Linked DNA regions of Homo sapiens: region 2 is linked to region 1. The links come from fine-mapping of genetic effects on gene expression. A gene starts in region 1. The other region holds a variant in brackets. All regions are shown on one strand. Distances are between the middles of the regions.

Evidence for each region. PIP is the estimated chance that this variant, and not a neighbour inherited with it, causes the effect.
Region 2: its variant is fine-mapped to the expression of NPHP4 in tibial nerve (GTEx, PIP 0.97).

Annotation. Positions count from the first base shown.
Region 1 is chr1:5,990,205-5,995,570 of GRCh38, reverse strand. NPHP4 (nephrocystin 4) reads left to right here and starts at 3,146. Exons shown (of 30, transcript NM_015102.5): 1 at 3,146-3,327. It also overlaps a transcript of KCNAB2 not described here. RefSeq lists enhancers at 1,797-1,846, 3,723-4,577 and silencers at 2,597-2,846, 2,927-3,106, 3,147-3,316, 3,467-3,646.
Region 2 is chr1:5,884,877-5,890,242 of GRCh38, reverse strand. It overlaps NPHP4 (nephrocystin 4), which reads left to right. Exons shown (of 30, transcript NM_015102.5): 18 at 2,777-2,957. Among named protein-coding and RNA genes, the nearest start is that of MIR4689, 25 kb to the right of the region's middle. The variant G/C (reference allele first, on the strand shown) is at 2,551.

The DNA of each region.
Region 1 (5,366 bases):
GTCGCTGAGAAATCTCCATGGTAGTGGCACCTCCCAGTCCCAAAAGCCCCTCCAGTGACCTGGACACACCCAAGGGCACTGGCTGCGCCCATGAATGTCAGCAATGCCTCCAAGTGGCCTTCTGAAGGGACAGCCGGTCATGTCCTCGGGGTGCTGGCTTCCCCCAGCTCGGACAGCCAAGGCATGAACTGGGCTCAAATAAGTAGGAAGTAGGGGGTCCAACCCAGCTCCGTCACTGCCTCTGTTGACCCTGGAGAAGCCTGTCCTTCCGTTTAGTCCTCTGAGAGCAAGGATGACCGGCTGCTGGGTGCCAAGACCCAAGTCCTCCTGGTGGTGGGAGGGGGACTGGCGGGAACATGGGGTCTATGGCCCTAGACACCTCTGGCATCAATCCTTCTCGAATTGCCGCCCCGAGCTGCCCACTGTCCTGCCTCCTTATTCAGGGACGCCAGGAAAACATTCACTCTGGGACCTCTGGCGGCGTGAATATCACTGAGAACTTAGCCGAGGACCAGACACATACCGCACCTGGCCAGAGTCCCTGGAAACAGAAGCACGGTCCCCTGGTTCTCGCGAGGGAGCAGGCTCTCCTTCCACACAGATGATGTGTTCCCAGTTACCACGGCAGAGCACCAACACACAGGAAGGTCTAGGGGAGGCCCCTCCCTCCAAGCCCAGGCCGGAAACTGCCAAATCAAAACTGTGTGGCACTCGCTTCCTCCTGAACCATTTGGGTCTTAGAAGATGACTGAAAAATGAAAGCGAGGAAGCCTTCTCTAGCTGGCCAGCCCATGGCACCCTCGGCCTTTCCAGCTCTCTAGCGCCATGGCCCACGTCCCACCTCCCGGGTGCAATGGCTTCTGTGCACACTGCTTCCCATCCAGGCTCCAAATCCAGACCCAAGACGGTTCTCAACCAAGAAACACACGAAAAGGGTTTCACACTTTTTCACGACACCCCCCAACTCCAGTGCCTGGCTCAGCCCCCAGGTGTTGACTAGCACCTACAAAGCATTTGCTGACTGGCGCAGGGAAAAAAAAAATGGCCCTGGGTGTCAACAGGGAAGCCCCTACCATGCTGCTCTCGAGGGATGTGCTGCGGCCCGAACACTGTCAGTGCCACTGAGGCCGAGTGTGGCCGTGGAGACAATGACAGGACCTGGAGGACCAAGTGCACTCTTAGGGCCCCACACTGCGAGAGCACAGGGCCAGGAGCTGCACAGGGCTCTGCAGCAGACACGGCCGCCAGGCGAGAATCAGGTGGGCAGATGTGACTCTCCACACGTAGGTCCCCAAACCCTGCAACCTGCAACGCGGGGCCTGAATGCGGCTTCCTTAGCAGAGCAGGAGCTTACTCTTGGCACTGGGGGAAAGGGGAGGGGTGAGGCTGGGGTTTTTGTCGGGGAGGAGAAGTTGCAGAGAAAGAAAAAATCCTGAAACGACAGACAGTGGGACAGCTGTGGCCTGAACTTGGTGTTCTTGCTCCTCGGATGTGGATGTATTAATTTCCATAAATGCTAATAGCCCACTTCCCCAAGAGCTATTACTTATGTCATCTCCCCTTGGACACAGTTCAACACAGGGCAGACAAATGAAAGGGAGGAAAAGACAACCCCCAGTGGCGGTCCCCAGCTCCTCAGCCCCCTCCCAACCAGGCAGCTCAGGTCTGGTTCCTAAGGTGGCCCTGCTAACCGCAGGGTCAAGACCCCTGCCTTCAGCTCCGTAGCCAGGTCCCTATCACGACAGGAAGCAAGAAAGTTACCAACCCCAAAAATGCTGAATCACAAAGTGAGGCTGAGCAGGAAAGTGGGGGTGGGGAGGGAAGGAGACGGTGGCCAGGGAGGAAAGGTGCTAAGGGGCTTTCCACCTGGAGCACCCCGGGATGCTGCGGGCAAAGCACAGTCCCTGTAAGAGCCCCCAGGACAAATGCCAGGAGGAGGGACACCAGGATGCGGCTGGTTGGCGGGGTGGGAAGGTGGGCAGGTACCCCGGCTGCTGCTAATGCCGCAGGACGCGGTGCAGCAGTGGGGTCTTTGCATCCTGGGAGCAGCAGCAGGTAGGGAGGTGCGGAAGTGCTTTGTGCCAAGGCCTGGCAGGAGGGAGAAGCTTAAGATAGGAGTAGGGGCTCAGGGTCAGAAGTGGCGGTGTGTGTGCTGTAAACAGCCCGAGGAACTGGTGCAGGAAGCAGGGTCACAGTCTTGGGGAGCAGGGTAAGGTGGTGAGAGCGTGCCCGCGGGGAGAGGTCGGAGGGGCTGGGGGCAGAATGGGAGGGTGGGGAAAGGGACCGGAGCGACACAGGGACAGGCAGCGAGAACGACGGATGAGCCTTGAGAAGCGATCAGGAGGAGAGATGGGGAGGACCGGGAACAGCAGCGCCCCGGTGGGGCTGCGCAGAGGCCGGGAGAGGGGATGAGAGGAGGATGGAGGAAAGGGGAGGGCGAGGCTGCTAGGACCGGAGCGGGCAGAGATGGGGAAGAGGTGCACCGGGAAGAGGGACGGCGGCAGGGGCAGGGGTCAGGGATGCGAGCTGAAGGGTCGGGCGGGCGGGAGGACAGGGAAGGAAAGACAGAAAGGGATGGGGGAAGGGAGACGATGGAGAAGGAGGTGAGGAGGCTGGAGAGGAGGTGAGACAGCGGCGGAGGCAGGGACGCAGGGCCGGGGAAGAAGAGATGGAGACGGGACCGCGGCGCCTGCCGCAGCGCGGGCCTCGCGGATACCCGCCGCCGCCGTCCCGGAGCAGCTTGGTGGAAAGCGCGCCCCGCCGGGGTCTCCCCGGTACTCACCTGGGGGCTCCAGCTCCGGATCCTGTGCCCCGCGCCGGATCTTCCTTCCCGCCCTGCCCCTGCGACTTTAGCGCCCCCGAATCCCGCTAGCTCCTGCAGGTTCCGCCAGCAGCATCTTCACCTCGTGGGACGCCCGGGGCCACGCCTCTTCCAGCTTCTGATTGGCTATTGTTCACGCCAGTCACATTACCATTGGTTGAGGGGTCGTCGGACATGCAAATCAGGATGGGCCCGCCGCCGCACCGATTGGCTGGCGCTCGCAAAGCGCAGCCCTCGACTTGGGCTCTGATTGGCTCCGCGGCCCTGACGGCGACAGTGACGCGAGGCGGGTTCTTGGACTGAGTGTGCGGCGCGGTGCGCCGCCTTCCGAGGCTCCTCCCGCGGGTGGCAGCGGACGGGGCGCGCCCCTCGGCCAGTCCTCGGTCCTCAGGCTTGTGGCTCCGTTGAGCACCGGCCGCCGGGCCTCTGGGTCCGTCGAGTGGAGACTCTCTGAAAAGCGTGGGCTCCGTGGCCTCCGGCGCGGCCGCGGCGGGTCGGTCTCCTAGGTAACGCGGCCCGCGGCGGGCGGAACCATGTGGGCCGGCGCCGCGGGGGAGGTTGGACGCGGCCTCGAGGCACAGGGGGCCTCAGTGTTGGCCAGAGCCTCGGGGTTCGGGGGTAGGGTGGTCCACGCCGTCCCTGCGTGGGGGCCCGGTGCCTGGGGTGCGGCGGTGGCGCGCGGCGGGGGCTGTCCCCGCGTTAGTCGCAGGCGTCCCCCCTCGTCGGGACACTTGGGGTCGGGGCCGCTGGGTGCCGTTTGGCTACGTGGGTTCCTTTCTGCCCTTGCCCTTTGCCCCCTGCCCCCTGCCCCCTGCCCCCTGCCCCCTGGCCTCTCTGCAGCCCCTCGGCTGAAGGGAGCGCGGTACCGATGTTCTGGGCCTTGGCTCCCCGCGCCCTAGTCCGCGCGCATCCTTCCCAGGCCGGAGTCCGCGGACCCCGCCTGGCCGCGCCCCTCCGCCCCTCCTCCCCGCCCCCCGGCTCCAGCTCCGGCTCCGGCTGTCAGTTCCCCGCGGTGGCTCTGCGGCCTTCGGGCGTCCCTGCGAGGCTTTGTACCCGGCGCCGTCCCGGCCTTCTGCGCCCCTTTCCTGCCTTGGAACCTCCCGGCCGACCCGGCCCGGAAGGCGCCACCCGCTCCCGCGTGCCCTTCCCCACGCGTGCAGGCTGCTCCCGCCCGCCCCCGGGCTTGCAGGCACCTCGCTGCCCGAGATTCCTCGTGTCTAACTTCTTAGGAGACCGCTGCTTTCTGCCTCCGTGTGTCGCGATGTGTGGCTTTGGTGGACGTCTGTGAAGGAAATCCAGCCTCTCGCGTGTGTAGTTGGCAAAAGGAGGAGTATTTCTGTTGATGGTGGGCAGCGCCTCCCGGTCCTAACCCAGGGCTCCGTTCGTTGCACCTCCTCTGTGCAGTTTCCGTAGGTCACACTTGTGTCTTTTTGTATGCTAATTTGTGCCCCGTTTCTTTACATTCTATGGGGGTAGCGAGCTTGTCTGCTGTGTTCAAGACCGTTTCTCCCGGGCGCAGGGTAGGTGCTGAAAGAATGCTCATGAATGAGGGAATTCCAGGCAGTGCTTAATCAGACCTCTGCTTCCCCAAAAGCTCCCCAAGGCATCTGGGTCTCAGGCATTACACATTTTCCATTCCGGGAAGGAGGCTTCCCGGACCCTGACAGCGCCTCCCACCCCCTGCATCTTCCTTCAGCCCTGCTCACCTCTGCACCCTCCCGGGGGCCTGTTGCTGCTCACAGTCACTTTCTTGTCTTTCTCCCCCACTGGCTTTCTAGATGCTTGAAGACAGCACATTTGACAGCCTTCTTATGCACTGGAACACAAGTGCTCGGGAAATAGTTGCTGAATAGATCAGCAGAAGCAGAGATCTCAAGGAGATTTCACAGCTCTCATTTTGGAGGTTGGAAACAGGTGGGGAGGCTGCGAATCTGTCCTGAAGTTAAAGAGGAGACAGCATTAGCCCTGGGTTCCTTTGGTGCTCTTACTTTTTCCCTCTGGGCCTCTCTTCTCCCTTGGCCTCTCCTGGCCTCCTTGATTGAGGTAGTGGGAGGTAGTTATAATAGCTTACAGTATTATATCTATAATACTATTATAATAGCTAGTTATAATAGCTAGCTGTGTGACCTTGGATTGGCTGTTTATCCTTTCTGAGTCTCAGTGTTCTCATCTGTAAGATGGCGATAATGATGATTCTCATTTGGCAGAGTTGTTGGAATAGTAACCATAGAATGTGAGTTCCTGTCTTGCATCAGGGGCTCATTAAAAGTGGGTGTATTTTCTTCTTCTTCTTTTTTTTTTTCCCCTGGAGAGCCCACTGTACCCTTTTCTTGGGTTCAAGACCTGGAGCCTTCTCGATTTTCTCTTTTATTGTTGATTTGGCCCCAAAGGCCCCTCTGCACTTCCTCCAGGGCATTTGTATTTCATCCTTAAAAGACTTTTGCTGAAGACCCAGCCTGGTGTCATGGAGCTCACAGTCTCGCAGGACTACAGCACAGCCCTGGTGAAGCGTGGTGGCTCTTCTGTCACCTGCCCTGTGTGGGAG
Region 2 (5,366 bases), 110 kb after region 1:
TTCTCTCAGGCCACGGGACGGAGCTGGGAGAGGATGTGGCGTCATTATTGCAGCCCCTGAGTCTCTGAGATTTCCCCACTTTTCTTGAGTGCCGCATAGCTGCTTTCCTCCTGGATTCCTGACACGGCTGAACCCCCGGGGCTTCCTGTCCTCTCCAGCAGCTGCTGACCCCTGAGAAGCACGGCTCCTCTGCTCCTTCAGCTGCGCTGTGCTCTCGGGGTGGGGGGATGGGGTATGGGAGTTTTTCCAGCTGCTCTTCCTCTGAGGCATGGTCTGCTCTTGGCTCCCCGTGTGACCGACTGATCCAGGCTCCATCCCTGCTCCCTGTGACTTCTAGAGGAGGGGGATGCCCCCCAGGGTGGTGGGCTGTGCACAGAACGTTCAGGGTGGGGTCTGCAGGTGGCAGGGACTCCGCAGGGCTTGGCTGCTCTTCTCATGCCTCACCCTGGGCCTCTGTTCCTGTTGGGGTCATGGCAAGGGCCCCACAGGGTCATCGTGGCCCTTGCTTGTCCGTCTCCCATGCTGGCTTTGATGTCCCCAGGGCAGGACTGTGTGTCGACACCACAGCATCTCTAGCACAGGCCTCAGCCCCAGCAGGCTCTGCATGGTGGGGAGGCGTAAAGGAGGCAGGCGGTGTGGGAGGCAGAGCCGGGTCCCGCTGGGCATGTGTGGGGTGGCAGTGGCTCCCCTGTCGTGCCCAGCCGAGCCTTGTGCCCCCTCTTTGCTGTGCCACCTGGAGACGGAAGCCATTTGATCTCCCCCTACACGAAGAGCCCCTTAAACAAGTGCCGTTACGCTTGTTGACATAGACTTGAATAAATTAAATTTAAAGCTTCACTTTTCTAAAATAAAATCTTGTAACTTTAAAACTTAGGTAGAAAACGTGAAAAACTGAGATGATCAGAGAGAATCCTCTGGACTCCAGATCCTGGGAGAGTTAGGTTGCTCCGGTTAGCCTTTGGTGGACTTACTTTCTGCAGGCGGGGCCAGCTTTCATCTTGTTTGAGCTCTTGCTGTTGCGGGTCACTACAGTGGCTTTTCCTTCTGCTAATCACTGCTGTGGACTTCTTGAAGTTCAATTTTACCCCCATCTTCTAGTTGATTTCCTGGGGGTGCTGGCCGTAACACGTTGCTACGACGATGAGAAGAGTTTCCTCTAGGGACGGACGGCTCCTGTGCTGCCTTCAGTGTGACCCCTAGCCCAGCCCTGGGGCAGTTCTGTTTTTATCCTTGTTTCTGGTGGAGAAAACAGAGGCCCAGGGTCACACTGATGATCATCAGGGCAGAGTCTTAGCCTAATTCTGTCTCCGGGGCTTGTGCTATTTACCATCCTCTTCTCCCTAATGACATGTTCCCGGAAGTAGAATTCTGATGGTGCCACCGTGAGGGCCGCAGGCATGCAGAGCCAGATGGGGGTTTGGCCCGAAGGCTCAGCCAGGCCTGCACTTCCTGAAGACAGAGGGCACTGTGTCCCATGTCCTTGGCTTCACAGTGTGTCAGCCTTTAAACCAGTCGCCAGTGGCCATTTTGATAATGATTTGGGAGGAAAATGGTGCCTTGTTTTCATTCGCATTTCCTTGCCTCTTGGAGAAGCTGACATGGTTTCTTGTATTTGTTGGCTGTTCCCTAAAGGAGACTTCTCATATCTTCTCAGTCTCCCAGTGACTGAGGTTCCGGAATCATCGATGTCTATGCAGTGATCGTATGCAGTGTAGACGAGTGTGGCAAAGCGACCAGGGTCTGCGGCGACCGGAAGCCCCCAGACCCACAAGGGAAGGGTCAGGTCTGGCGTCTCACTCCCAGAGACAGGCACTTTTGTTGCTGTAGAAACTGGAGAATTACAAAATCCGGAACCTCATCTGCTCCCACACTGCTTCTTATGTGAGAGGAAGCACCAGAGCAGAGAGGGCACGGGGGAAGAGTGTCCCAGCCACGCCTGGGGCACAGCCGTGAGGCCGTTGTCATCCCCCACATGCCTCACAGTGTTGGCGTTCGGGCAGAGTGCTGAGCCGTGGAATCTGATCAGCAGAAGAGCCCGTGGTCAGGAAAGTCCTGCTGAGGCCCTGCTGGGTCTGAGGCTTCCTGCTCCCACCCTGCCCCGAGCAGCCTCGGCCTGGCATGCAGAACTGGGCCAAACCCCAGCCCAGGGCTCCCGGCGGGCCTCTCGTGCCCCATGGCCCCTCCCTGGGCCCCACGGGCCTCTACCCCAGCCATGCTTCCTGGCCCAGGGAAACGGGGGAGGCATTGTACCCTGTACCCTGTGCCCTGTGCCCTTGGCCTGGCCTGCCTCCCCGGCCTTCTCTGCCTCCCCTGCCCTCTCTGTGCATGGCCTGTCTTCCTCCTGGAGTCCCATTGGGGTTTCCGTCCTGGATTCCTCGCTGTCCCAGACACGCTTGGCTAAGAGTCCTTTGCGTTGCTTGGCTGCCCTCTTTCCTGCTCTTGCTTCCTGTGGAGGGGAGGATCCTCCAGGGCAGCTGCCAGACCCACTTATGCCTTCCCAGGGCCCAGTGGTATTTATTCAGTGGGTAAATCCAGTCATACTTTACTTAA[G/C]ACTTTGTGAAAAAGACCCCAGTAATAAGGAGTCCTGCTTTAAGACGTTGGCGCCTGGCTCGCCGCCCCCTCACCCCCCAGCGTGGTGCAGGGTCTTATCCTGCGCACACCCCCTCCCGCCCACAGTGGCTTTCCTGCTGGGCTGGGGAGCAGCCTCCACCTGCAGGGCTGGTGGAAGCAGCCCAGGGCCGGCTCCAGCCTCTGAACGCGCTTTTCTCTTCTGCAGCATCTCCTCCGCCAAGGCCGGCCGGCTGTGCAGGCCTCCCACGAGCTTGAGGTCGTGGCAACTGAATACGAGCAGGACAACATGGTGGTGAGTGGAGACATGCTGGGGTTTGGCCGCGTCAAGCCCATCGGCGTCCACTCGGTGGTGAAGGGCCGGCTGCACCTGACTTTGGCCAACGTGGGTAAGAGTCCCCAGCCTTGTGCCATTTCTCCAGCGGCCGCCCAACCCCTCTGGTAGAGTGTGGGCTCCCTCGGGCAGGGGCCACATCATGGGCTTCACGGGCCCAGGAGGAAACCGGGAGAATTCTCACCAGCTTGGCCATGGAGCCTGTGTCCTTGGCCGCTGAGTCTGTCCTGGACCCAGTTGTTTGCATTCTGAATTTCTGATTGGGGTTAGAGGTCATCAGTCATCTCGGGCTCTCCTGCATGTTGTTGTTTGTTGCTATCCCTGGAGGATCTCCGGGACAGTCCTCAAATACAGTGACTGGGTTCCAGGAGAGACTTCCCTGTGCCTCATGATGGAGGACAGACAAGGGAAGTGTTCCTAACTTCCCTGCAGCCCGGGAGGAGGAGAGTGAAGAGGCGCATTTCTTCTCGGCCCAGCACCATGACTTTGTAGAAAATGGTGCCCCGGGATTGCTCGTTAGAGGGCCTGAGCAAAGCCCTGGACTTCACTCCACGTCCAGGACTGTGGTGGGTGGGACAGGTGGGTTGGGTGGCTCAGGAGGGTCCCACCTGGGACGTTCCAGGGGCTTCGACTGAGGCCTATGCTGGGATAGGGGCTGCTGATGGGGTGTCAAGGGACACAAGGCTGGGTGCCTGCCTGTGCGCACCTCAGGGCAGAGGACCGACATGGGACCCTGTAGGGCCAGTGACAAGCTCACTGAACCTCCCGAGGGTCCTCTGGAACGTTTGGGATTTTTCAGGGCAGAATTGAAAACACAATAAAACTAAGCCGTGTGATGTTTCTGAAGCTGTGTCTGTCTGCATGAGATTCAGACTTGTCTGCTATTTTATTAGGGAATTTTCCACTCCTTAGAACCCAGCCTGATTGTAAACCCCAGAGCCCCATGGGCCACATCCACCCGACGCTGGCAGCGCAGAGGTTGGTGGGGGGCCTGGCGGAGGGGCTCAAGTGCACAGCTCGTTAAGTCGACTTGGAGGCTCTGCCTGCCTGTTTACGAATGTACATCCGAGGCGGCCTGGTAAATAGACAATATGGACACAGCAAAACTCAATTAGGTTCTGGAGAAATAAATGAGCCACATGTGAGGAGCAGGCATTATTCAAAGGCTCATGCAACTAAGGGAGTTGCAAGAAGCGTTCTGCTCTGAGACCGAGTTGGTTGTTTTTATATTTAATTCTCCAGCCACCAAATGTGCAGTGACTCCAGGTTTTAAAATCTTATCTTCAGAAGAAAGATTGCCTCCATTATATGTTATCTCCAATTGTCATTTTCATACTTTGCCTGCAAGAGAGAGATAAGCTCATAGGAAGGGGAGGCTGAGATAGCCAGCCTGGGAGACTCCGGCGCTGACGGGAGAGGGAGAGGTTTTCACAAAGGTCGAATCCACCCGCAGCACTCTGCGCATCAGTGCAGCGAGCCTGGCTCTCCTCCGTCAGTTCTGCGTTTTTTGGAAAAAAAGGTGTTATGGCTTTTCTTTCTTCATAAAACTGGCTATTCTGTGGTACAGTAGGCGTCTCTCTGCTAGCAGCGTGGGTGCTGGCCATGGAAGCCTGCAGGGTTACCGCACGGGACAGAACCTGAGCCTCGGCCTCGGCCTGGATTCTGCTCTGGGCCAGCTGCATTCACAGTGCATGTTCCTGTCTGAGGCCACGCAAGGAAACCTGTGCCATGGCTGGGGACATGGGTGTCTGCCAGCTGGGCCCAGGGCCCTGGGACTCTGATGATGGGGAGAGGACTGCCCTCATGCTTGGTGGCTGCTTCACACAGCTGATTTCCTTGGCAGCCTCTTTTGCACTGTCTTTCGGTCAGCTTTTGTCGTCCAGGGACAGCAAGCACCAGATTGCTTTCTTTGATCCCAGTGATCTTGGTTGTGGAGTAGGATGGGTTCGGCTGGGAGCTTGGGCAGTGATCTTGGTTGCGGCGTAGGATGGGCTCGGCTGGGAGCTTGGGCAGTGATCTTGGTTGTAGAGTAGGACGGGGGTTTTTCTGGGAGCTTGGGCACTTATCTTGGTTGCGGAGTAGGACGGGTTTGGCTGGGAGCTTGGGCAGTGATCTTGGTTGTCGAGTAGGACGGGGGTTCAGCTGGGAGCTTGGACAGTGATCTTGGTTGTCGAGTAGGATGGGGGTTCGGCTGGGAGCTTGGGCAGTGATCTTGGTTGTGGAGTAGGACAGGGGCTCGGCTGGGAGCTTGGGCACTGATCTTGGTTGTGGAGTAGGACGGGGGCTCGGCTGGGAGCTTGGGCAGTGATCTTGGTTGCGGCGTAGGATGGGCTCGGCTGGGAGCTTGGGCAGTGATCTTGGTTGTGGAGTAGGACGGGTTCGGCTGGGAGCTTGGGCAGTGATCTTGGTTGTCGAGTAGGACGGGTTTGGCTGGGAGCTTGGGCAGTTATCTTGGTCGTGGAGT